Linked DNA regions of Homo sapiens. The protein of the gene in region 4 purifies or fractionates together with the protein of the main gene of each other region. This does not show direct contact. Each region holds a gene or a part of one and is shown on either strand. Other genes may lie near its edges. The genes, in order: ALDH3A2, ENDOD1, MMS19, TMEM43, CAV2, RTN4 and TTC39C.

Region 1 (2,673 bases), on a different chromosome or scaffold from region 4:
AAGGACTACATATCCCTAGGAAGCCTAGGAAGCACGGTTTAGGCCAAAGGATTATGCCCTTCCTCAAAAAACAACAATAACAATAAGAGTAAGACAACGTGATAATGAAGGCTATATTCTGTCCACTGTCAACTAGCTAATGTCAGAGTAGAGACAGAAGATGAGAGTACTAACTTATTATCCTAGCATTTTCAGTAGGAAGCTGAAGTCTCTACATGGAATTCAAAAACTGGTATACAATTTTGTTTCTAAAATTCAAAAGTAGTACTGAATTTAATCCTTCCTATTGAAGACTGAGGAAGGGCTGCTGCAATCTCAAGGTTCAAATGTCATATTTAGTTGTCAAAGGCCTAATGAAATTTATCAACATTAACCTCTTATGTTTCTCGACCTTTTAAAACCCACATCTCCCACAATGCCTTCTGTAGCTTATAAGCTTTATTGGAACTTTACTTTGTGTACAATACTTCTGCTCTAAATCCCTTCTAATTCTAGTAAGGTAATTAATAAAATAAAATCCAAGAGTGTAACAAAATAAGGAAACTATTAAGTACATAAAAGCCATTTCAGAAAAATGTAATTACAATAAATAGACTATTCAGGTAAATATACAGTACAGATTCAAAGTCATTTATTTTAAATAAAAGGTAATTTGATAAAAAGAGGATTAAAAGCTCAGAAAGGAGCAGAAAAGCAGCAAAGTGGAAAAGAAAACCAAATCTCTACCTAGTTCCAGATTGAATCCAAAGAAATATTAACAACTATTAGTAATGAGAATTGAGCGGAAGGGTTGAAAGTGGCCTGGGGAATCACTGACACCTACTCCCTCACCCTGTAGATGAGCAAGCTGAGGCCCAAGAAAGAGCTCAGAAAAGGCCTTGCCCAAGTTCATTGAGCCAGGAATCAAACCACATTTTTTTGTTTCTGCTAAAGGTTTTATATATTGCTGCTTCTTTTATATATTGCTGCTTCTCTAGACCCTCACAGAGAAACATGCCTGCCAAACCCTTTGGGAACTCGAACCTGCCTGGCACACTGCACTGCACCTGAGGGAGGCTTCTTGGGGGTTTGGTAAGATTGGAGAATGCAGACTCAGCCTGGGCCTCCGTATTTTCCATGAGGCTAAAATATTCTATCCTACCAAGATGCATTATCAAACTGAGGAACCGAGGTCTTGGGAAAAGAACAAAAGAGACAGATATTGACCAGAGACCCAAGTAAGCTTCCGACCACACCTCCAGCCTCAGGAAGGCAAAGAAAGTAGCCCCTAAATTGTATACTACACCTTGATTTCACGACATTTGCTGCCATGAATTCCAAAGTCAAACCTTTTTTTAAAAATGAAAACAAATCAAAACTACTTAGTGATTTAAAAAACATATTCTTAAATTATGACATAAAGAGTTCAGTGCCTAGATGGTGACAAGTCTGAATTAGTCAGCTGGCACCTCCCCCAGGAGAGCTGAGTAGAAGGGGAAGAGAAATGAGGCTCACACTCAGCTGCCCTTTTCCAAGAAATGATGTATGCTTCACCTGGACGCAGCTAAGCCATTGCCTCTGCACACTTCTCTTAGATTCCTAGCAAGTCACTTCACCCTTTTAAAATTGTGGATAAGTGGAGTTTTAACACCCTGATACTCTGGGCCCAGGTCCAAAATGTCTAGAGATAAGTAAGTTAAACATTCTTTTTTCTTTCTTTTTTTTTGGAGACGGAGTCTTGCTCTGTCACCCAGGGTGGAGTGCAGTGGCACAATCTTGGCTCACTGCAACCTCTGCCTCCCGGGTTAAAGCAATTCTCCTGCCTCAGCCTCCCTAGTAGCTGGGACTACAGTCACGTACCACCACACCCAGCTAACGTTTGTATTTTTAGTAGAGATGGGGTTTCACCATGTTGGCCAGGCTGTTCTCGAACTCCGGAACTCAGGCAATCCACCTGCCTTGGCCTCCCAAAGTGCTAGGATTACAGGCGTGAGCCACTGCGCCCGGCCCATTCTTTTTTCAATAACCCTTAAGCCTCCAACTGTAGCAAAAAAAAAACAAAAATAAAAACAAAAACAAAAACAAAAACAAAAACAAACCAAAAAACCCTTGAAAACATACCCCAACTTGGCCCACCTTACATATAGAAAGAAAACAAAAAGTTCCTACCTCACTCTTAACAGACAGGGCTGGGTTTTGAAATCTGGTGTTCATCTCTGCTTACTGGACCAACGCAGTCTGTGAACTACCAGAAAAATCAACAGGGCCTTTCTCCTCAGCACAGCTTGGTATTTCTGAGAAAACCCAAATGATTTCAAATGCAACTGGTATCTCCAATTCCACTAAGGCTGGGATACTGTAAGATGAGCCAAACCCCTTTCAAATTTTTGTTGTTGTTGTTGTTGAGATGGAGTCTCGCTCTATTGCCCAGGCTGGAGTGCAGTGGCATGATCTTGGCTCACTGCAACCTCCACCTCCCGGGTTCAAGTGATTCTCCTCCCTCAGCCTCCCGAGTAGCTGGGACTACAGGTGCGTGCCACCATGCCTGGCTAATTTTTGTATTTTTAGTAGAGACAGGGTTTCACCATATTGGTCAGGCTGGTCTTGAACTCCTGACCTCGTGATTCCCCTGCCTCAGCCTCCCGAAGTGCTAGGATTACAGGTGTGAGCCACTGCGCCGGCCCCCTTTCAAAT
Region 2 (3,500 bases), on a different chromosome or scaffold from region 4:
AATTATTACTATGACAGATGTTAAGTTTCATGAAAATGAAAGGGTAAGTCACCATTCAGAAGATATAACATGCATCTTGAAGGAGGAAATTTGAAAAAAAAAAAAAAAAAAAAAAAAAGCTTTCTTGACTAACAGTAATTCTAGAAGATAGACCAGATAACTGAAAACAAATGCTACTGGCAAATAAGAGGATTTACTTTCTAAAATTTTCACTTTCAGAGATGAGAGTTTAAAAGGAAGAGAAATTTTATGCCCAAAGAATAAAATCTCAATTCCCTAAGGAAAGCTCCATTCAATCACCATGAATCACCAGTAACGGAGCTAAAAGAAATCTGAAGCTGGCATTTACATACAGAATGGTATGTTAGTAGTGAAACCATAAACCATCCAAAGAACTGGATTAAAAATAAAATAACAAGTCTAGTCAGCCAGTTTGGATTCTGGAGAGAAAAAACTAACATTTTAGTTAGAAAATAGTGTGATAGAGAATAAAGAGAGTTAAGAGCTTTGGATTTGGGCAGTCATAAACTCCTGTCCAGGTTTTGCCATCTAGAAGCTGTTTGACCTTGGATAAGTTACTTAACTACTCCGAACCTCAGTTTCCTAAACTATAAAACACAAGTCATAATACCTAGAGTTGTTATAGAGATGAGATGAGTTAGAATGTGAAGACCTTTGACATGGTAAGGGATCAATAAATGATAGTTCCTTGCCTAGATTGTCCAGATATAAGTCTAAACTGAAAGAATAGTATAGGGAATTGTCACCACTGGACTGCTTCAGGACAGATGTCCCTGAAATATTCTGCCAACGCAGGTAAATACCTTAACTTGATCCTGAGAATGGCCTGCAAAACAAAAGGAAACACTAAATCCAAAGATGAAGAAAAAGCCAGAAGGGAAAAATTCAACAAAGGTTGGAACCATCCCCTGGGTCAGGCACTTCCCAGTCTTATCCAGTCTCAGCACAATAGACTGGAATGCCATTGCTCACTGTTTTCTGACAACACACTTCTTGGTTTTCCAGGACAGAGAGGGTGGAGATGTCTTTGGTACCTGTTTGGTTTGTTTTTGCTTTTAATCACTCAAATCCACCCTCCATCCATTCATTCAATCTTCCACACATTTCATCTCTCATCATGCATTTATGAAGCAGCTACTGTATGAATGTGGGACATACACCAAGCATTTGAGAAGATACATGGATAGATATTTTACTTTTTAGGAGAGATTTGCAGAATTGTAGATGTCACCTATCTAATCCAACATTCCATTTGTGTGTGTGTGTGTGTGTGTGTGTGTGCGTGCACACGCCTAGCACCTACTGAAGTAACACCTTATATACATATTAATATTTACTAAGAGTTTACCATATTCCAGGTACCATGCCACATGCTCTCATGTGTTATCTTGTTTATTTGTCACAACCTCTCTATAAACACTTTTACAACCTTTAATGAACAGATCCAAAAAATGGGGCTGGAAGTCACATAGCTTGTAAATGGAAGAGCAGGGATCTGAATTAAGTCTCTTAATTAAGGAGTAAGAATCAGGATTGTCCTGTTCACTGCATTCCTTACACAGAGATTTAAGTGTATGATGCTCTATATATCTGTTCTCTGACACAATGAAAAGAAGGCTGAGGTTGGAACAAATTGAACAGTATTTCTGTTTCAGGTTGTATAAGCCATGGATGGAAATTAAAAATCAAGGACTTAATCAAGGTTCTAACTTGAAACAACCATTTGCATTTACTAAGATCTGAAGTAAGACCTCACTGTGCCCTCCAGGAAAATGTTTTTGCAGTTAACCAGAATATCCCCTTCATTCCAGAGTAAAGTGACACTTGAGCAACCTTTATGCAGCCAAGTAAGTGCTCCCACTTGTCCTATGACTGTCAGAAAATAGAAGTGGAGTAGAAATTAGAATTCTCACATAAAAGATGAAAATTAGAGTCCTAAGACCATTAGCGCAGTGGATCCATTGTGAGATCAAAGAATCTCCACAGTGTATCAGAAGAGTAATCAGTAATGAGTTCAAAAATAAGCTGTGTGACCCTAAAACACCTCAGTTAACCTCCCTTAGCCAGTTTCCTCCTTTCTACAATGAAGATAATATCTACCTCACAGTATTTTTTAAGATTGAACAAATATACACTATTGTTACTGAATATATAAATTATATATTATATAATTAATATGTATAATATATTAATTATATAATTTATATATTCAGTTCCTTCCATGTTTATAAAATGATAGAGCTTTATATGTTGGCTTCTGGCATAAATCAGCAATGCACTTTAGAAAGGTATCATTGGCATCTTATCTAAAAATTCTTCCATTAAGTGGAAAGGAGTCAACAAACTAAAAGGTTTGAGGCTTCCTGCACTAAACCAGAATCCAGTTCTCAGGTTTCTGGAGTCTTGACTAGAACTCCTCCAAACCATCTCCTGTAGGCAGAGCAGAGATCAAAATCATTTGGGATAGTTTCAAAGGCCAAAGCTAAGACTGATGGAGTGGCTGCAGAGCAGGGTTCCAGCTCTGCATAGGGAGCATGTTTGTAACAGTTGCTGCTGGCCAGCCCTGGTGCAAGCTTCTGAAACAGGAAGCGCCCCACTGAGAAAACTGAAGCAGAACATCTCACCTGCTCCTGCCTGATTGATCCTCCCAACATCAAATTATTTTATTCAACACTTATCGCGTGCTTTCTATAAGCTGGGCACTAGGAAAAGAATGAGTAAGATGCAATCATCATTCCTCAAGGGCTCAAGTTGGGGAGACAGATACATAAGCAGATAATTACAAAACAACATGGTAAGTATGAAAATAGAAAAACTATAAGAGCACTGAAGGGGTGAACCTAACTTGGGAGGTGGATACAGTTCAGGTGGGGAATTCTTTCTGGAGGAGGTGACACCTCAGCAGAGTCTTAAAGGATGGAGTAAGGGCAGGAAGTGAAGGATAAGATGGGGTCTGTGTAGAAAGGGAATTTGGGCAAAGGGAATCAGCATGAGCTAAGAAACAGACATCACAAACAGTCTGGTTTATGAGAGGAACTCCAGGCAGCTGGATAATGCTAGAACATAAAATATGAGGGTGGAGCATGGTGAGAAACTAGATTGGAGCTGGAGACAGGAGCTAGGCTATGGAGAGCCTGTAAACTGCATTCTGCAGTGTGAACTTTGTCCTGTAGGGGCTGGGCAGGCAACACTTTACAGATTTTCAGCACAAGAGTGACTAAGTTTCTGTGATCTTTGACTTAGGAGATTCTTTTCAAAGGGAAACTGCAGTGTGGACTCAAAAGCTGCCGAACTGGGCTTTGGGAATTCAGTGTCACTGCTGCCCTGCCTGACTCATCACTGGAGGCAAGCACTGAGTTCCTTTGGTCTCCTGCCTCTTCCTCCCCTGTGTGCGGGTCCTCTTGGTAACACTGACCTCATAAAAAGGTGATGTGGGTACAAGGAGACTCAGCATTATAAAATGCTTGGAAGCCGCCAAG
Region 3 (3,500 bases), on a different chromosome or scaffold from region 4:
CTCAGGTCAGGAGTTTGAGACCAGTCTGGCCAACGTGGCAAAAACCTGTCTCTACTAACACAAAAACTAGCCGGGTGTGGTAGCGCATGCCTGTAATCCTAGCTACTCCGAAGGCTGAGGCAGGAGAATCACCTGAACCTGGGAGGCAGAGTTTGCAATGAGCTGAGATCATGCCATTGCACTCCAGCCTGGGCTACAGAGTGAAACTCAATCTAAAAAAAAAAAAAAAAAAAAGTATAAAAGTAGAAAAAATTAGAGAAAAATGAGGCCGGGCGCGGTGGTTCACGCCTGTAATCCCAGCACTTTGGGAGGCCGAGGCGGGCGGATCACGAGGTCAGGAGATTGAGACCATCCTGGTTAACACAGTGAAACCCTGTCTCTACTAAAAAAAAATACAAAAATATTAGCTGGGCGTGGTGGCGGGCGCCTGTAGTCCCAGCTACTTGGGAGGCTGAGGTAGGAGAATGGTGTGATCCCAGGAGGCAGAGCTTGCAGTGAGTGGAGACGGAGCCACTGCACTCCCACCTGGGCGACTGAGTGAGACTCTGTCTCAAAAAAAAAAGAAAAGAAAAGAAAGAAAAAATTAGAGAAAAATGAGATAATAAAGCTATTACAAGACCGTAAAAAAAAGTAAGGAAGATGGTGGCCAGGCATGGTGGCTCACACCTGTAATCCTTGCACTTTGGGAGGCCGAGGCAGGTGGATTACTTGAGGTTAGGAGTTTGAGACCAGCCTGGCCAACATGATGAAACCCTGTTTCTACTAAAAAAAAAAAAAAATAGAAAAATTAGCTGTCCATGATGGCATGGGCCTGTAATCCTAGCTGTTTCGGAGGCTGAGGCAGAAGAGTCATTTGAACCCAGGAGGCTAAAGTTGCAGTGAGCCAAGATCGCGCCACTGCACACCAGCCTGGGCAACAGAGCAAGACTTCATCTCCCAAAAAAAAAAAAAAAAAAGCCATATGTTCGTTTTCATTCAACATTTACTGAATATTATAAATAGGGTACCATGTTAGGGCTTAAGATAGAAATATGGGCAGGGAGTTTTGGGGAAGTCCATAGTCTGTTGGAGCAGAAAGACAAACATTCATTCATTTATTCATTTTTGAGACAGAGTCTTGCTCTGTCACCCAGGCTGGAGTGCAGTGGTGCCATCTTTGGCTCAATGTAACCTCTCCCTCCAGGGTTCAAGTGATTCTCCTACCTCAGCCTCCCAAGTGGCTGCGACTACAGGCACACCACCATGCTGGGCTGATTTTTAAAGATTTTTGTAGAGACAAGGTCTCACTATACTGTACAGGCTGGTTTCGAATTCTTGGGCCCAAGCAATCCTCCCACCTCAGCCTCCCAAAGTGCTGGGATTACAGGCATGAACCACCATGCCTAGCCCAGAAAGACATTTAAAACAATCACAGTAGGCTGAGGCTAGAGGATCGCTAGAGGTCAGGAGTTGGAGACCACCTTGGGCAACAAAACAAGGCCCTGTTCGCTACAAAAAAATTAGCCAGGTGTGGTGGCACGGGCCTGTAGTCTCAGCTACTCTGGAGGCTGAGGCCAGAGGATCACTTGAGCCCAGAAGTTCTTCGAGGTCACACTGCACTCCAGCTGGGGCAACAGAGTGGACCCTGCTTCTAAAATAAATAAATAAAACAATCACAGTGTAACAAGTTCTGTGTTACCACAGTGATATAAACAGAGATTGGGTTGGCATGAGAAAGAAGTAAAATTCCTGGGTTTATGGACCATGGGCCACTAACTTTAAGTGATTAATTCTTTTAATGGTGCAAATTATCCAAAATTAAAAATAACCAGGGTTGGCATGGTGGTTCACACCTGTAATCTCAGCACTTTGGGAGGCCAAGGCAGGCAGATCACCTGAGGTCGGAAGTTTAGAGACTTGCCTGACCAACATGGAGAAACCCCATCTCTACTAAAAATACAAAATTAGCCGTGTGTGGTGATGCATGCTTGTGATCCCAGCTACTCGGGAGGCTGAGGCAGGAGAATCACTTGAACCTGGGGGGCAGAGGTTACGGTCAGCAGAGATCGCACCATTGCACTCCAGCCTGGGCAACAGAGCAAAACTCCATCTCAAAAGCAAACAAACAAACAACAACAACAACACACCCGTAATACCTGGAAATACTATTAATTATGCACTTGGACTCCTGGGATGAAGAAAGCTAACAGAGAGTTAATTTTCCTAACGGTATTTTCGCTGGTATCAAGGAAAAAATCAGTGTAAGTTCATTTCCCTTTATAGGAGGGTCTAAGATTTTCCAACACGTTCAAGATTTGCTCTTAAAAATGGACCTACTAGCACCTCCTAACTACCCACACTTTCCTTAGCAAGGCACCAGTTTGTGTGGGGGCACTGAGAAGTCAAAGGAGTATTCATGTGATCATTGACACAGAATGCACAAACAGATCTCTGTCTGATGGAGTTGAAGCCTCTTGAGAATCTGGACTAGCAGCCAAAGGGAAGTGAGGGGAAGCGGGTAGGGTGGGAGGATGAGAAGGAGCAGGAGAGAGAAAAATCCCAATCAGGACTAAGTTCCAATCAAGCTCTCAAAATGCCCTTTCTGCTGATAATGCCTCAGATATTTCACTAAACTGTATTTTACTGTTCTTTAATACTTTGACTTAAGGAATAGAGGTATTCTTAGGGAATCACAAACATGGAAAAACACAATACAATAAAGACTGAAATGAAGGAAAATCCAAATAACTAAAAGGAAAAAAATTATATCCATCACCTGCAAATTCAACGTGTTCAAAAATCACATTCTCTGAAAATCAGCTCTCGTCCTAATTTTGGACAAAGTATTTCTTTTCCTCATCCTCTGGTTCAAAACCTTGGGGTCTTCTTAGAGTCCTCTATCTCCTTCAAGCCCTATAATAACTAGTTAGAACTCAAATTCCACAGATTCTTCCTTCAACATTTCTCATTGCATTCACTCAAGCAGTTTTTATTGTGTACCTACTGATGCCAATTTCAGGAGATTCTGGTGGTACAACTGGGAGGGTAGGATGTGGAGATGTATACAGCAACAGCTACTAAACTAGTCCACTAAATACATGAGTGGTTGAGAAATAAGTGCGTACTACAAAGATTCTGACGTATGAGATGCTGTCTGGCTGGGTTAATCAGGAAACCCTTGGGGAGGGGTAGGGAACTCAAGCTGGGCCTTGACTCTCAGGTCTAACTTCGATTACACAGAGCTAGTGAAGGGAATTGGGAAGGAAAGCACTCAGGGAACTACGAATAAAGGTGGCTGCCTGGAATTAAACGTCCAGGGAGCAGTGAGAAAAAAAGGCTGGGGCCAGGTAGTGGCAGGCTTTGAAGGCTTGCCCAAGAGGCCTTTAACCCTTAGGCTGCCAGGTTATTTCCCTCCCATCGCCTGCAGCTTCTTTACAGCTGACACTTTCACCAGGAACCCAGGTACAAAACAAAGGTGGCAGCAGCTGCTTTTGTGATCAAAGGGTGCTCCTTCTGCATTT
Region 4 (3,500 bases):
GATGTCAAGTGGAAATGTCAAGGAGGTGGTGGAGGTGGTGGGAGCTGCAGGGCTGTGAGGCCCGGGAGAGGGCCAGAGCTGCAGCTTTAAATTGGAGGGTCACGGCATGTGGAGGCCAAGGAAGCAGATGGGATGTCCGGGGAGAGAGTATGGACTGAAGCAGCTAAAGAATTGCAGCATCTAATGGACAGGAAGAGGGGCAGCGACAGCGATGGAGCCTGAGAAGGAGGGTGCAGTGTCCCCAAGCCATGTGGAGAGGTTCTGAGATTAAACAGATCACACACATAGCGCAGAGCATGCTGCCCAGCAGACATCCTCCAACCTGCTCAGGGGTGGTGGGCAGGGTCCTGCTCATTCCAGGTGAGACCGTGGGCTGAGGGCTCCAGGTGCTGGCAGGCTCTGAGCTGAGGAAGGCCCGTACGTTCCACAGAGATCTCATGCCTTGCCCTGTGCTCTGCCAGATGGGCAGAAGGACTTAGCCCTATAGGAGGCTTGCCCCCACTCCGTCTGGCCTGTTCAGAAATGGCCAACAGCTCCCGAGTTGGTACAGCCCCCTCAGGACCTGCCCTGCCGACTGGGTACGCCACTGGCCCTCAGCATCCTGACCTGCCCCCACCTTGTCCTGCAGGAGGTGTTTCATAGAGAACTAAGGAGCAACTCCATGAAGACCTGGGGCCTGCGGGCAGCTGGCTGGATGGCCATGTTCATGGGCCTCAACCTTATGACACGGATCCTCTACACCTTGGGTAGGTGTTGGGGTGGGTCACTGCCCTCCCTCCTGCACCCTGAAAGGGCCTCCTCTGCCTGTCGCATCATCTCAGCCCTTCCAGCCTGATGGGATGGCCCTTGTGCAGATACCAGGCATTTGGCTCATCTCTGTGTCCCCGCTCCATAGCCTTGGGATGAGGGAGCAGAGGAAGGCAGGCTTGAGGGCAGGAGCTGCCAGGGGCCAGGCTGGGTGGGGCCAACTCTGGGGCACTGGTCTCACTCCACAGCCTGAAGGTTCGTCCATCTGCTGGCTCGATCATTTGCTCATTCCTTTGATCCACAATTGAATACCACATGGGAGCCTGCCAGACCTGCATTTGAAATCTGTCACGTCCAAGCTCTGGATGCTTGGCCGTTCCCTTCCCATCTCAGCTTCAGTCACCTCACCCCTTACATGCAGAGTTTTATGAAATGTGGCAAATAGGAAACACCCAAAACTCTCATGCTTCCTTCCTCACTCCAAAACCTGGGCTAGATTTGGGCAGCCAGCAAGTCTGGAGCATGAAGGAGAGTTCTGGGCCACTCCTTGACCTGAGGTTGGCACCAGTGAGCCCAGTAGGAGACCTGTGGCCCAGCGTGGTTCGGGATCTGAGTGCCCAGGGTGACTAAGTGCGTTCTGGGCCCAGGAGGATGGGGTTCCTCGGAGGACTCTCCATCCAAGCCTTTCCCTGGTGTGTGTCCCTTCCAGTCACATGATTGCATCAGTCTTCTCTGGGTGCCAACAGAAACCTCTTCCCCACTCAGCATGCACAAGTCAGAAGAGGTCTGGCTGCACATCTTGGGCTGTCTGAGCTGGGGGGACCACCTCCTTTGTTTACAGTTGGGAAAACAGGCCCGGGAAGGGAAGGACTCTCCCTGAGCCTTTCTTTGGACAGCTGAATTGTGCTCAGAAAGACCAGTGACGTGGTGGGCACATTAGCGAGAGATGAGCATTTAAACGGAATCCTCTTTCTTGCCTGTGTGACCCTGGGGAGACCAGTTCCCTTCTGGAGCCTTGGTTTCCTCGTGTCTGTCTCAGTGGGCCCTTCTTTGGATCTCTGATGTCTGTGATCCCAATTCACTCTACGTCTGGAATGCGCCAGACTCAGGACAGACTTAGAGTGTGGAGGGACCCCCAGGGTGGGTGGGGAGAGTTGGGAGCGCAGCAGGGAAGCACACAGTTCCCCATGCGTTTGATAAATACCAACGTGTGTAAGACTCCACAGCTAGAGACAGACAAGACTTAGAGCAACAGCTCAGAGCCCAGGCTCTGGGCCCATACGGTCTTGAGTTCAAATCCTGGTTCTGGCACTTTCTAACAGGAGGACTGGTGGTGAGTTTCTTAATTCCCTGAGTCTCAGTGACCCTGTGGGTAAAATGGAGTTAAGAAGAGTACCTACCTTACAGGGTGGGCATGAGTGCTTCATGAGATGGTGCACATGGTGCCTAACACAGGCAACGTTCAGAAACATGAACTTTGCTTATTATAAGGGCTGAGTAGCAGTGCTGTATGGGAACAGATCAGGATGAGGCCAGGTAGTGGCTTGCAGGGTGTGCTGCAGGCATGGTGGGGCACCAGGGCTTGCTCTGCAAACCCAGTGATTCCAGACCATTGGTGGCCTCCTGGGAACTGAGCGAAGATTCCCTGAGTGGACATCAGCTATGGAATGCCAACCTGGAGAGGTCACACAAGGCAAGAATAGGGTAATTCCTCATGAATTTAGCTGGATTCTGGGCTTTATCCTATTGGACCAATAGTCTGTGAGATTCTTGAGGAGAGGCCAATGCTTAGGCTAATTTATTTCCTCTAGCACCTGCTGGTTCAGTGCTGGGCACATAAATCATTAGTAACAGCCTGCTGCATGAATGAACCAACACCTCTAGGAATGGCTGAGAGGCCCAAATAGGCACCTTCAGGAGGCTCCACCCACAGCCTCTTGTATGAGTGTGCAGGACCCAGGTTATTTCTAGCATTACAGGCAAATGTCTTTATACTGGCCTCAGACTACTCTCCACATAAAGTATTAAAGTTTACAAAGCACTGCTACATCCTCTCCCCTGGATCAGGGTAGAGTGGGTGGCTTAGGCAATGTGCCCAACCACGCAGCTCATAGCAGAGGCTCCTGTGCTCCCTTAGCTTTCAGAACGAAGCTCCTTGCCTTCCACCCACTGATCCTCTCCCCTCCTCATGCATGTAGCAACATGGGCCCATCCTCATCTAGGGACAGGAGAGATCTGCTGAGCTGGTGAGGTGTAGAGCAGGTGGCACCTCATCACCTTTCTCCTTTCCACAGTGGACTGGTTTCCTGTTTTCCGAGACCTGGTCAACATTGGCCTGAAAGCCTTTGCCTTCTGTGTGGCCACCTCGCTGACCCTGCTGACCGTGGCGGCTGGCTGGCTCTTCTACCGACCCCTGTGGGCCCTCCTCATTGCCGGCCTGGCCCTTGTGCCCATCCTTGTTGCTCGGACACGGGTGCCAGCCAAAAAGTTGGAGTGAAAAGACCCTGGCACCCGCCCGACACCTGCGTGAGCCCTAGGATCCAGGTCCTCTCTCACCTCTGACCCAGCTCCATGCCAGAGCAGGAGCCCCGGTCAATTTTGGACTCTGCACTCCCTCTCCTCTTCAGGGGCCAGACTTGGCAGCATGTGCACCAGGTTGGTGTTCACCAGCTCATGTCTTCCCCACATCTCTTCTTGCCAGTAAGCAGCTTTGGTGGGCAGCAGCAGCTCATGAATGGCAAGCTGACAGCTTC
Region 5 (3,152 bases), on a different chromosome or scaffold from region 4:
ATACTGACCCATTTACTTAAATTTGGTTGAGAGTTTGAAACAAATAAATGAACAATGATCACTGATAATGATTTGGGTTTTTTGTCCCCCTGACTCTCATTTTGAAATGTAGTCCCCAGTGTTGGAGGTGGGGCCGAGTGGGGATAATTGGATCACAGCGGGTAGATCCCTCATGAATGTCTTAGTGCCTGCCACCCTCTTGGTAACGTGAGTTCTCACTCAGTTAGTTTGCTTGAGATCTGATTAACTAAAAGAGTCTGGGACCTCCACATTCTCTCTCTTGCTCCCTTTCTTGCCATGTGACGTGCCTGCTCCTCCTTCTCCTTCCACTATAAGTGGAAGCTTCCTGAGGTCCTTGCCTAAAGTAGATGCTGGCACTGTGCTTCCTGTACAGCCCGCAGAACTGTGAGCAAAAATAAACCTCTTTTCTTTATAAATAACCTAGTCTCAGGTATTCCTTCATAGTAATGCAAATGGACTAAAGTGATAAGATGCACAAAAAATATGTTGCCTAAAAATATAGTCATGTAGATAATAAACACTAATATTCTTTCTACTGGTGGCATGCTATCTGAAACAGTAAAACAAAAATAAATAAAACCATGTCTTTATCTACCTGGTCTCTGCCAGTTAACATTAACCTGCTTAAGTCTTCACACTTCCCTGAGGGTTTACTTCCTGATAGCCTTTCCTGCTGCCTCAGTCTTCTTCCCTTTTCCTGGACCAGGCTAGATCGGATATTCCCTCATTGTATTTCTAAAGTACTGAAACAAACTTCTTAATTTTCACATGTATCAAAAGGTATTATAAATAGATGCTGTATTTCTGTCTTTCCTACTAGCGTTTAAGTTTTTTTAAACAGTGAGGACATCCTTGACCCTTAGTAAATGGTTGAGCTAACATAAATTTATCATTCTTTTATGCCTTATGTTATTAACTATGTTTTATATTTTTTAATTTTTTCACAGTAATCACACACACTGAAAAGGGCTGTATGGTATAGTTGAAAGAACCCTGCAAATGATGTTAGAACTTTTACACAAGAAAACTAGTCTATCCTGAAATTGTTATTTTTCATACACTTGTTCCTAACATAGCTGCATATCCTTATAGTCCTCAGGATGGTTAATTTTATATGTAATTTTCTAAATAATGTTCTCTGTTGTAGTAATGTCCTCTGAGCACAAAAGTAGTTGTGAGATTTTCAGGCACTGCTGGTAGCCTCAATGGAAGCTTTATTATTACCTGGGTGGGCATAAGGGAGTAGGCTGATTTTCTTGGTTTGCTATTAAAATATGACTTAAATGAGGGTCTGCTGTACTTAGCCCAAAATGAAGGAAATATTAGGCAGCTTTCTGATTGATTGATATATTTTTAGAATATAGAATTATTCACATTGACTGTCTCCACAAATTGTGTTTTATTTCAAGTGCTAAATACATGAAACACTTTTATATAATAAGAAAATTAATTACTAAGTGTTTCAGAGATAAATAGCTGAATAGAAACCTCAATGATGGCAACTTTAGACTTATTATTCTATTATATTTCTCACTTGATATGTGGTCTTGGGCATGTTGCTACAAATTAAAGTGACACCAGGAGATCTCTCAGAACTGGCTATGAGGATTGACATTTATTATGTACCCCTGAAATGCCTGTATGATGCTGTCATTATAATGTATAATAAATAGACCTATTTTGAAGGCAGAATATATAATGAAAATAACTATAACAAGATGACCTCAAATTGGCCTATTAAAAGGCTGAAGTTTAGATCAGAAAGTTTCCTAACCAAATCCACTTCACTTAGAATTCCTTCCTTCTTTCTTTCTTTCTCTTTCTTTCTTTTTCTTTCTCTTTCTTTCTTTCTTTCCTTTCTTTTCTTTTTTCTTTCTTCTTTTCTTTCTTTCTTTCCTTCTTTCTCTTTTTCTTTCTGTCTTCCTCCCTCCCTCCCTCCCTCCCTTCCTTCCTTCCTCCCTCCCTCCCTCCCTCCCTCCCTCTCTTTCTTTCTCTCTTTCTTCTCCCCTCCCCTCCTCTTCCCTTCCCTTCCTTCTTTCTTTTCAGGTTCTCACTCTATTGCCCAGGCTGGAGAGCAGTGAAGTGATCTCGGCTCACTGCAACCTTCGCCTCCCGGGTTCGAGTGATTCTCCTGCCTCAGCCTCCCTGAGTAGCTGGGATCATGGGCACTTGCTACTATGCTTGGCTAATTTTTGTATTTTTAGTAGAGACAGAGTTTCACCATGTTGGCCAGGCTGTTCTTGAACTCCTGACCTCAAGTGATCTGCCCAGCTTGGCCTCCCAAAGTGCTGGGATTACAGGCGAGAGCCACTGCTCCCAGCCAGAATACAATGTACTTTCTATTCTTCCTTAGGCTAACAAATTTTCTATCTCCGTGACTCCTTAGATCTCCATGTCCTAAAAGGGAATTTAGCACATGTCAAAAGTGAATCTTCTTGTTCAGCAAAGCAGTTACCCACATTCGAGGAGTTCAGTTTATAGGGTGTTGTTAACTCATTTGGATTTTATTTTTGTTTACTTGTGTTCCCTCATTTTGGAGCAGAGAATCTAATGATCCTCCGACATCAAACTTAAGTTGGGTTCTCAACATCACAAATAGTTTAGCTTCTGAAACTCCAGGCAGTTCTGATTGACCCAAAATTTGGTTGAGGCTGAATGTGGCCAATACTTCTTAAGTAAATCTTATAATATATATATATTATATATATTAATATATGTAAGGTTATATATTCCTTGGATAATATATATCCTTGGATAATAAGGCCATAGGATAGAGACTTTTATTTAGTGTTGTAGTAATTGTAGAGTCATGCAGACTGCATTCATAGCAATTTACTGTATGAAAACTGTCTTCTAGAAATGAGATTGCTACTATCGCATTTCCATCAGTTGGGCATTTGTTTGCTTTGCATTCCAGCAAAAATAAGGGATATGGGTGCTCCAGCCACATTTCTTTGGTTATGATCCACTTATGACCAATAACCTGTGCTTAACAAACAGCAGCTATCTCTGTCTGACTGTAGTATGGAATCCAACTAATTCACTGATTCCTAATGGCCCGTACTTCTGGTCTAGGATCCAACACCACCAGACTTCTGTGTTTTATTGTTGTTGATTGTTTGTTTAAAGGA
Region 6 (3,500 bases), on a different chromosome or scaffold from region 4:
TATTAGCTTGTATAAAACTGAAATTTGAGGGTCAAAGAGCAGAACCAAATAATTACGCAGCTGCTCCATCTAAATAACAGTTAACCAATTCTTAACAAAATGGTTGTCTTTTTTATCTAGACAATATAGTTAAAAGCCACTAATTCAGAGGCTAGTCTATCTGGAAAGTGAACTAGAAACATATATTACTGTTAAAGTTAGTGGGAAAACAAACTACATCTAAATTTGTGCCATAATTTTAAAGTATTTTTTTAATGTACTGTACTCTTATTCCTACCTAGTGCAATAATCTTTTATAATAAAAACTATATTCCTGGAATTTTTCTAAGTAAAAAAGTTTTCAAATTGGTATTTCAAAGATTCATTATGTTTAAGAAAAAAAGAAAAATCTTCATTTTGTAAAATGGGATTCGATCCAGTTACCCATAAAACAAGTACTACATTTCTAAAAGCTCTTTAAAAAAATCCAGAATAGTTAACTATCTTCTGGGACTTCAAGAATACAGTTCAGACTCCTAATAAAGCAATCACAGATCATGAAATTGAATTGCCTAAGTCCAAATCACAAATCCATCACTTACAACTGTAACTCTTAGCCTTTCTGTGCCTAATGAAACTTGTAAAATAAGGATAATAAGAGTACCCACCTAAAAATGTTGTGAAGGAGGGAGAGGGAAAGAAAAAAGAAGAAACAACTTGCCCTAAGTCACAGAACTAGGAGGCCAGAGGGTCAAAACATCTAATTCCCAAGTCTTTGTGCTTTATAATTATTATTATTTTTTGGCTAGGCTTCCTCAAAGCACGAGATGTGCTTCATCTTCTGAAGGATGTATTTATGTACAAGTGCAACTGGTGCAATCCTTCTTACTGTATCAGCCCCTCAAGTTAGTTCTCCTGAAACAAGGTAAATCGTCACCCAGTAAATACCTTGTAATTAGCAGAAATATTGCATTGATCAATTGCTTCTATTTTACAATGTAACAACATTTATAGAAACATTAATGTGGGACAGGTACTGTGCTGAGCCGGCACATTTGTTTCAGATGTTCATTCTGTTCTCAAAACTACCCTGTAAGGTAGGTACTACTGTTACCCCCATTTCACATACGAGAAAAGAGGCATTTAAATCATATCTAATTACAATACTACAAAAAACCTGCATTTTAAAACCATAGAACTTCTGCTTCTGGCTATGAGAGTAATTACAACAGACTAATTCTTCCAATATAAGCAACTAAAAATATGGGCAAAATACTAGAAGCAACTATCTTGAGACACTGGACAAGAGGCAGGACAGCAGTGTGAATCCTGAGAAAAGGGAAACCTGCAAGATGACTACGCTGCTTTCTGTCTGAAGGCACATTCTGGTCTACAGTACAGAGAGAAGCCTAAGAATACCGCACTCTTGCTAAGCTGAGGAGGCTGAGGAGTTGTCTGGAATTTGTGAGACAGGGTAACATACAAAGTAAAGCCTCACAGAAAAGGAGCTCCAAAAATCTGGATAGGGGTTCCTCTTAAACCTCTGGGTGAATACTACGCTGCATGTGCACAGCACAAGACTCGGCAAGGCCTAGCCAAGAAACCTATGGTAGAGCTGCAAATTAACTGGATTATATCGAAGGTCAGAAAGTGCTGAAGACCTGATCTAAAAATTCTGACCAGTCAGAAAGGAAAGATCTCTCTAAACACCTCAAGCAGGACTACTCTAAGCCTAAAGGATACTCTAGACCAAGAGTCAGCAAACCATGGCTCATGAGCCCATATTGTATTGGAACACAGCCACGCCCATTCACTTCTGTGCTGTCTATAACTACTTTTGCACAATAAAAACAGAGACGAACAGTTTAGACAAAGGCTGTATGGCCCACAAGCCTAAACTATTTACTCTAACTGGCCCTGTAAGTCTGCAGACCCCTACCTCTAGACCCACCCTAACTTTAAAATCAAAACTTGAAAGGATCAAAATGATTTTCCAGCAAATTAACTGCCTGCCAGAACAAAGTTAAAACCACCAAATCCATGACATGCAGTATAAAATAAATTAATGGACATGCAAAGCAGCAAGAAAATATGACCATAAATAAGAAAGAATAGCAAATATAAACAAACAAATAACGTAGACGTTGGATTCGCACTTTTTTTTTTTTGAGGCGGAGTCTTGCTCTGTCACCCAGGCTGGAGTACAGCGGGGCTATCTTGGCTCACTGCAACCTCCACCTCCCAGGTTCAAGCAATTATCCCACCTCAGCCTCTGAGTAGCTGGGATTACAGGTGTCTGCCATCACACCAAGCTAATTTTTGTGTTTTTAGTAGAGACGGGGTTCACTACGTTGGCCAAGCTGGTCTCAAACTCCTGACCTCAAGTGATCCGCCAGCCTCAGCTTCCCAAAGTGCTGGAATTACAAGTGTGAACTAACACACCTGGCCTGGATTAGCAAATATTAAAATGAAAATTAAAATAGCTATTAAGATATTAAGTACAGAAAAAGACAGACATATAGAGTAGACAGGGAATCTTGGTGGAGAAATATAGACTAAAGGACCAAATGGAGATGCTAGAATTGTAAATTATATTAACTGAAAATAATCACTAGATGAGCTTAAAGGCAGATTAGACAATACAGAAAAAAAGATTTATTGATAAACAAACTTAAAAAACAACAACAGAAAGTATCCAAACTGAAACACAACAAGGGAAAAGGGCAAGTGAAAAAAGGAACAGAGCCTCAGTGCTGAGAGACAATCAAGGAGTTAAAATACCTATAATTGCAGTCCCCTTAAAAAAAGCAACAGTGGCCAGGCATGGGAGCTCATGCCTGTAACCCCAACACTTTAGGAGGCCAAAGTGGGAGGACCACTTGAGGCCAGGAGTTGGGACACCAGTTTGGACAACACAGTGAGACCCTATCTCTACAAAAAACTTAAAAATTAGCCGGTGTAGTGGTGCACACGTGCAGTTCTAGCAACTCAGGAGGCTGAGATGGGAGGATCACTCAAGCCCAGGAGTTTGAGGCTGTAACAAGCCATGATCACGCCACTGCACTCCACCCTGGACAACACAGTTAAGACCCTGTCTCTTTAAAAAAGACTGAAGAAGTTAAAAAAAAAAAAAAAGAAAAAATGGCCTAAAATTGGACAGAAGTTGGCATTTTGAAAATACCAACCAACAGAGCCACAAAGCTCAATGTACTCCAAGCAGAATAAACACAACACCACAAAAAGGCACACCATAAGGGTCAAACTGAAAATCAAAGATAGAGACAACCCTAAAAACAGTCAGAGGAAAAAAGCAGGTAAACAACAATAAGAATGACCTCACCTCTCATTGATGTAATCCAAAAGGTAATGAACGCCTTTAAAGTTATGAAAAAACTGACAATCTAAAATTATATACAGATGATCCTCATTATTCATGGATTCCTTATTTGCTCATTTACCTGCTCACTAAATTTGTAGCCCCAAAATCCATACTTGCAGCACTTTCAGGACATGCAATGAGC
Region 7 (3,500 bases), on a different chromosome or scaffold from region 4:
CCTCAGCCTCCCAAAGTGCTGGGACTGCAGGCATGAGCCACCATGCCCAGCTTATATCTCAATTTTCAACTGCTAGTATAATCTCTAAAACACATCTTCCATATACAAAGCACTTAGAAAACTGCTCTGCATGGTCTTCAGATTTAAGGAGTCACTTTATGAAGGAGAAAAATGACTGGGAAAGTAATATACACTCCACTGCCTGCATCCCCACCCCCAAAAAAACAAATTATTCCTGTGCCCATGAAAGCATTTCTAGGCAAAAATCTTCAAAAGGACTCATGGGGGCTGATTTCTCAGAGTGCCTGGTTAACTGGAGGACAGATGTTGTTAAAATCTCAAACTGATTCCCTGATAACTCTTGGTAACAATGTAGATGGAGCAGCTACTATAACAGCTATCTTATTTCATAGGTATGATTAATTTCTTATAGTTTCATTTTTCTACAAATCCTCATAACCTCAAACAAGCAGATAAAAAGATATGCAAAGGAGAAGTAGACTCCAAAGGCCAGCGCATTTCTGGTTCTGGAGTGAGACAACCCAGGCTCACTCACTGGGCAAGCACAGGAAGTTGCTTGAAGCCCTCTTAGATCCCTGTTTATTTTTTCTATAACATGCAGATGACAATTTTACACCTATGTCACAGGGTTGTTCTGAGGATGAAATGGAAAAGCGTGTATAAAGTTCTTAACGCAGTACTGAGCCAAATTAAGCACATGAAAATGTGATAAAAGCTCCTAGTATTTCAAAGCTCATGTTGCCCTGATATTTAAGGCAGTAACTTTTGTATAAGTCAATTGTTAGCCAAGATCAAAGTTTAGAAAGAGATTATTAGTAATTCAGAGAGGGAAAAAAATTGTATTTTGTATTTTTCAACTCAGCAACTAAATAATGCTCACGTGCCTTAGGCTGGAAGTGCACCAATCTTGTGTCATTAGCAATGAGGAATCTTACCCCTACTTCGCCCACATCTTCCGAACAGAAGGTAACTGACTAACATCCTGGGTTCCTGGAAGAGTCTTCCCTAGCAAAGACACAAGGAAAGGCAAAAGAACAAAATGCTCCGGGGCCCTGGGACATTCTGGCTCGTTTTAATACCAGTCCTCAAGTGAGAATCAGAGATTTGATCATCGGAGGCTTTATTTTAAAAAGATGAGGAAGGTACAGTACCTCTAGTCGTTGTATCCGTCCCTTGAAAAACATAAAGAGGGAAGAATTTGGATAAGCAGCTTCTTTTTTAAGGAGAATTTCCTTAGCTTCATCCAGGCCTGCCTTGTTATCACTGCCATCCAAGGCAAAAAACGGGCGGACTACAGTATGATACCAGAGCAGAGCTAATCTAGAGGAAGAGGGAGAGAAACATTGAGCACATTAACTTTCCTTACACCATTTCCATTTTTCAAAACTCCAGTATGTGTTCTTCCAATACTACTCTATCCAAAAAGCTTACTATGCAGTCTCTGAAGAAGTAAAATCAGAGACTTTCCCCATTTTAATGTTAATATTTGGAAAACTGCAACTTTAGCACAATATATAAATCAGAAGACACCCTTCCCTCAGGGGAGAAGAGAATAAAGTAACAGGAGCATTTAGCTTTTCTGAGCCTTCTAGATGGATCGCTGAAGAGATGGCTGACATAAATCTCTGAATTCTACACTTTACTCATTAATGCACCAATTAGAAATGGTAACTAGTCACCATGAGTTTACCGTTCCCTTGTAATAAAAGCTTTATTTATTTATTTTTGGCAAAAGGAAAATGTTGTTTTCTCTTGCGTTCACAAAACTTAGGGTATAAACCTAGAATCTAAGTTTAAATATCATGCACAAATAAATAGGTCAAAAGGAAAAAGAAAATTTATAAAAAAGAATAAATTTAAATATGGAAACCACAGACACAAATTATACTAAGTTGGGTTAAAATAAGTGAGGGGATAAGACAAAGGGCTCTTTCTCTGGCCTTTGAAGATGTTCAATTTAAAAAACAAGCAAATAAATAAATTACTTCAGACTCCCTTGCTCCAAACTCATTATTTAAAAAAAAAAATGGCCATGTTAAACTAGGTAAACAAAACAGAGTCACTGGGATTTGTAATCCTAGCTACTTGGGAGACTGAGGCAGAATTGCTTGAACCGGGACCCGGGAGGCAGAGGTTGCAGTGAGCCGAGATCGCGCCACTGCACTCCACCCTGGGCTACAGAGCAAGACTCTGTCTCAAAAAAAAAAAAAAAAAAAACAACAGCCAGACAAAAATGTTTAACCAACATGTCAAATATTTTTATGTAAATGCATACTTCTGGTGTGCTTATAAATTTGGTTCTCTTATGGAGCTCATACTAATGACACTATTAATTCTATTCATTTCTTTATCAGAGATAAGCATAAAATATTAAGATATAAACAGACAAATGATCACAAGTTAACAAACCTATTAATTCACATTAATAAAGGACAACTGTGTACTTCAATGAGTTTAGGGAGGCATAATTTTTTTAAATGAAAAATTAATGGTATTTTAAATAGCTATCAGTTGATTAAGAGTTAACATCCAAATTTCTCAATACTGATACAAGTAGAAATAGAGGTAAGGTCCTCTATGATATCAACATTTTTGGGGAAAATTTTGACAAGTGCTGTAATGTTAGACAAAGAATATCCGGAATCGTGTTAAATTACTCAAGTTACAAATGGTAGATATTTGCCAGACTAAAACAAACAAACAAAAAACACATCACTTTTAACTGATGTAGAAATTGGTGAATTCTTGTTCTAGATAGTTATATCAGCTTCCTCATGCTCTCCTGCTTAAATAATTATTATTTAAGTTTAAACCAAGGAACATAACATGACTCAGTTTAGCGAAAGAGCACAAAATATCCATGTCACATATAGGAAACCACCTTGAATCATCAAGGAAAATTACCCAATGTGAGAATTCTTTATAAGAATAAAAATTTCAGAAACACAGAAAAAGCTTAGCAAATTTGTACCTCCTAAGTCCAAAAATCAGAATCGTGAATCTCAGAGAATGTGGTCAAAGTCACAAAAACTGCTTATAAAATCATTTGAGGTTTTAAAATACATGACTTGTGAGACTAGTGAACAACGCCTTGTTCTCTAACTAAAGTCAGCTTAGAACCACCACCACGACCACAGAACACAGTCCTTGGTGTTGCATTGAAAGACATAAGACACAGCACCCTGTCAACCAACCAAACATTTTACCTGAAGTTTCCTTTAAAGTCTTTGATTGTCGTTTACTTACTTTCAACACTATATTATCTACCAAAGCATTGCAATACAGCTACTCACGTAGCTAAAGGGGCCTTCATGTCCTTACTTTCGCTTGCATACATCAGTGAAGAAAGCCCCTGTAGGCGGTCTCCAGGAAAACCCAGCAGGTTGATGATTTTGAGCAGGTTTGGGGGCACCATGGATATGCAAAGGTGAAAAAGGCCATATCCAAAGCTAACAGCACCTTTCAGTCTGTTCAGAGAC

Evidence for each region.
Region 1: the proteins of TMEM43 (region 4) and ALDH3A2 purify together in Homo sapiens (affinity purification with mass spectrometry, with the first as the bait; one large-scale study listed by BioGRID). This does not show direct contact.
Region 2: the proteins of TMEM43 (region 4) and ENDOD1 purify together in Homo sapiens (affinity purification with mass spectrometry; 3 studies listed by BioGRID and IntAct, with this or other methods). This does not show direct contact.
Region 3: the proteins of TMEM43 (region 4) and MMS19 purify together in Homo sapiens (affinity purification with mass spectrometry; 2 studies listed by BioGRID). This does not show direct contact.
Region 5: the proteins of TMEM43 (region 4) and CAV2 purify together in Homo sapiens (affinity purification with mass spectrometry; 2 studies listed by BioGRID and IntAct, with this or other methods). This does not show direct contact.
Region 6: the proteins of TMEM43 (region 4) and RTN4 purify together in Homo sapiens (affinity purification with mass spectrometry; 4 studies listed by BioGRID and IntAct, with this or other methods). This does not show direct contact.
Region 7: the proteins of TMEM43 (region 4) and TTC39C purify together in Homo sapiens (affinity purification with mass spectrometry; 2 studies listed by BioGRID and IntAct, with this or other methods). This does not show direct contact.

Annotation. Positions count from the first base shown.
Region 1 is NC_000017.11:19,672,751-19,675,423, reverse strand, and holds part of ALDH3A2 (aldehyde dehydrogenase family 3 member A2), read right to left. Parts: intron 2,274-2,673; coding exon of another isoform or gene 2,190-2,273; exon of another isoform or gene 2,149-2,189; intron 1-2,148.
Region 2 is NC_000011.10:95,092,846-95,096,345, reverse strand, and holds part of ENDOD1 (endonuclease domain-containing 1 protein precursor), read right to left. Parts: intron 1-3,500. UniProt on the Homo sapiens protein: May act as a DNase and a RNase. Plays a role in the modulation of innate immune signaling through the cGAS-STING pathway by interacting with RNF26.
Region 3 is NC_000010.11:97,491,923-97,495,422, forward strand, and holds part of MMS19 (MMS19 nucleotide excision repair protein homolog), read right to left. Parts: intron 1-3,500. UniProt on the Homo sapiens protein: Key component of the cytosolic iron-sulfur protein assembly (CIA) complex, a multiprotein complex that mediates the incorporation of iron-sulfur cluster into apoproteins specifically involved in DNA metabolism and genomic integrity.
Region 4 is NC_000003.12:14,138,552-14,142,051, forward strand, and holds part of TMEM43 (transmembrane protein 43), read left to right. Parts: intron 1-628; coding exon 629-746; intron 747-3,041; coding exon 3,042-3,244; 3' UTR 3,245-3,500. UniProt on the Homo sapiens protein: May have an important role in maintaining nuclear envelope structure by organizing protein complexes at the inner nuclear membrane. Required for retaining emerin at the inner nuclear membrane.
Region 5 is NC_000007.14:116,502,738-116,505,889, reverse strand, and holds part of CAV2 (caveolin-2), read right to left. Parts: intron 1-3,152. UniProt on the Homo sapiens protein: May act as a scaffolding protein within caveolar membranes. Interacts directly with G-protein alpha subunits and can functionally regulate their activity.
Region 6 is NC_000002.12:55,029,952-55,033,451, forward strand, and holds part of RTN4 (reticulon-4), read right to left. Parts: intron 1-3,500. UniProt on the Homo sapiens protein: Required to induce the formation and stabilization of endoplasmic reticulum (ER) tubules. They regulate membrane morphogenesis in the ER by promoting tubular ER production.
Region 7 is NC_000018.10:24,080,754-24,084,253, reverse strand, and holds part of TTC39C (tetratricopeptide repeat protein 39C), read right to left. Parts: coding exon 3,315-3,500; intron 1,342-3,314; coding exon 1,173-1,341; intron 1-1,172.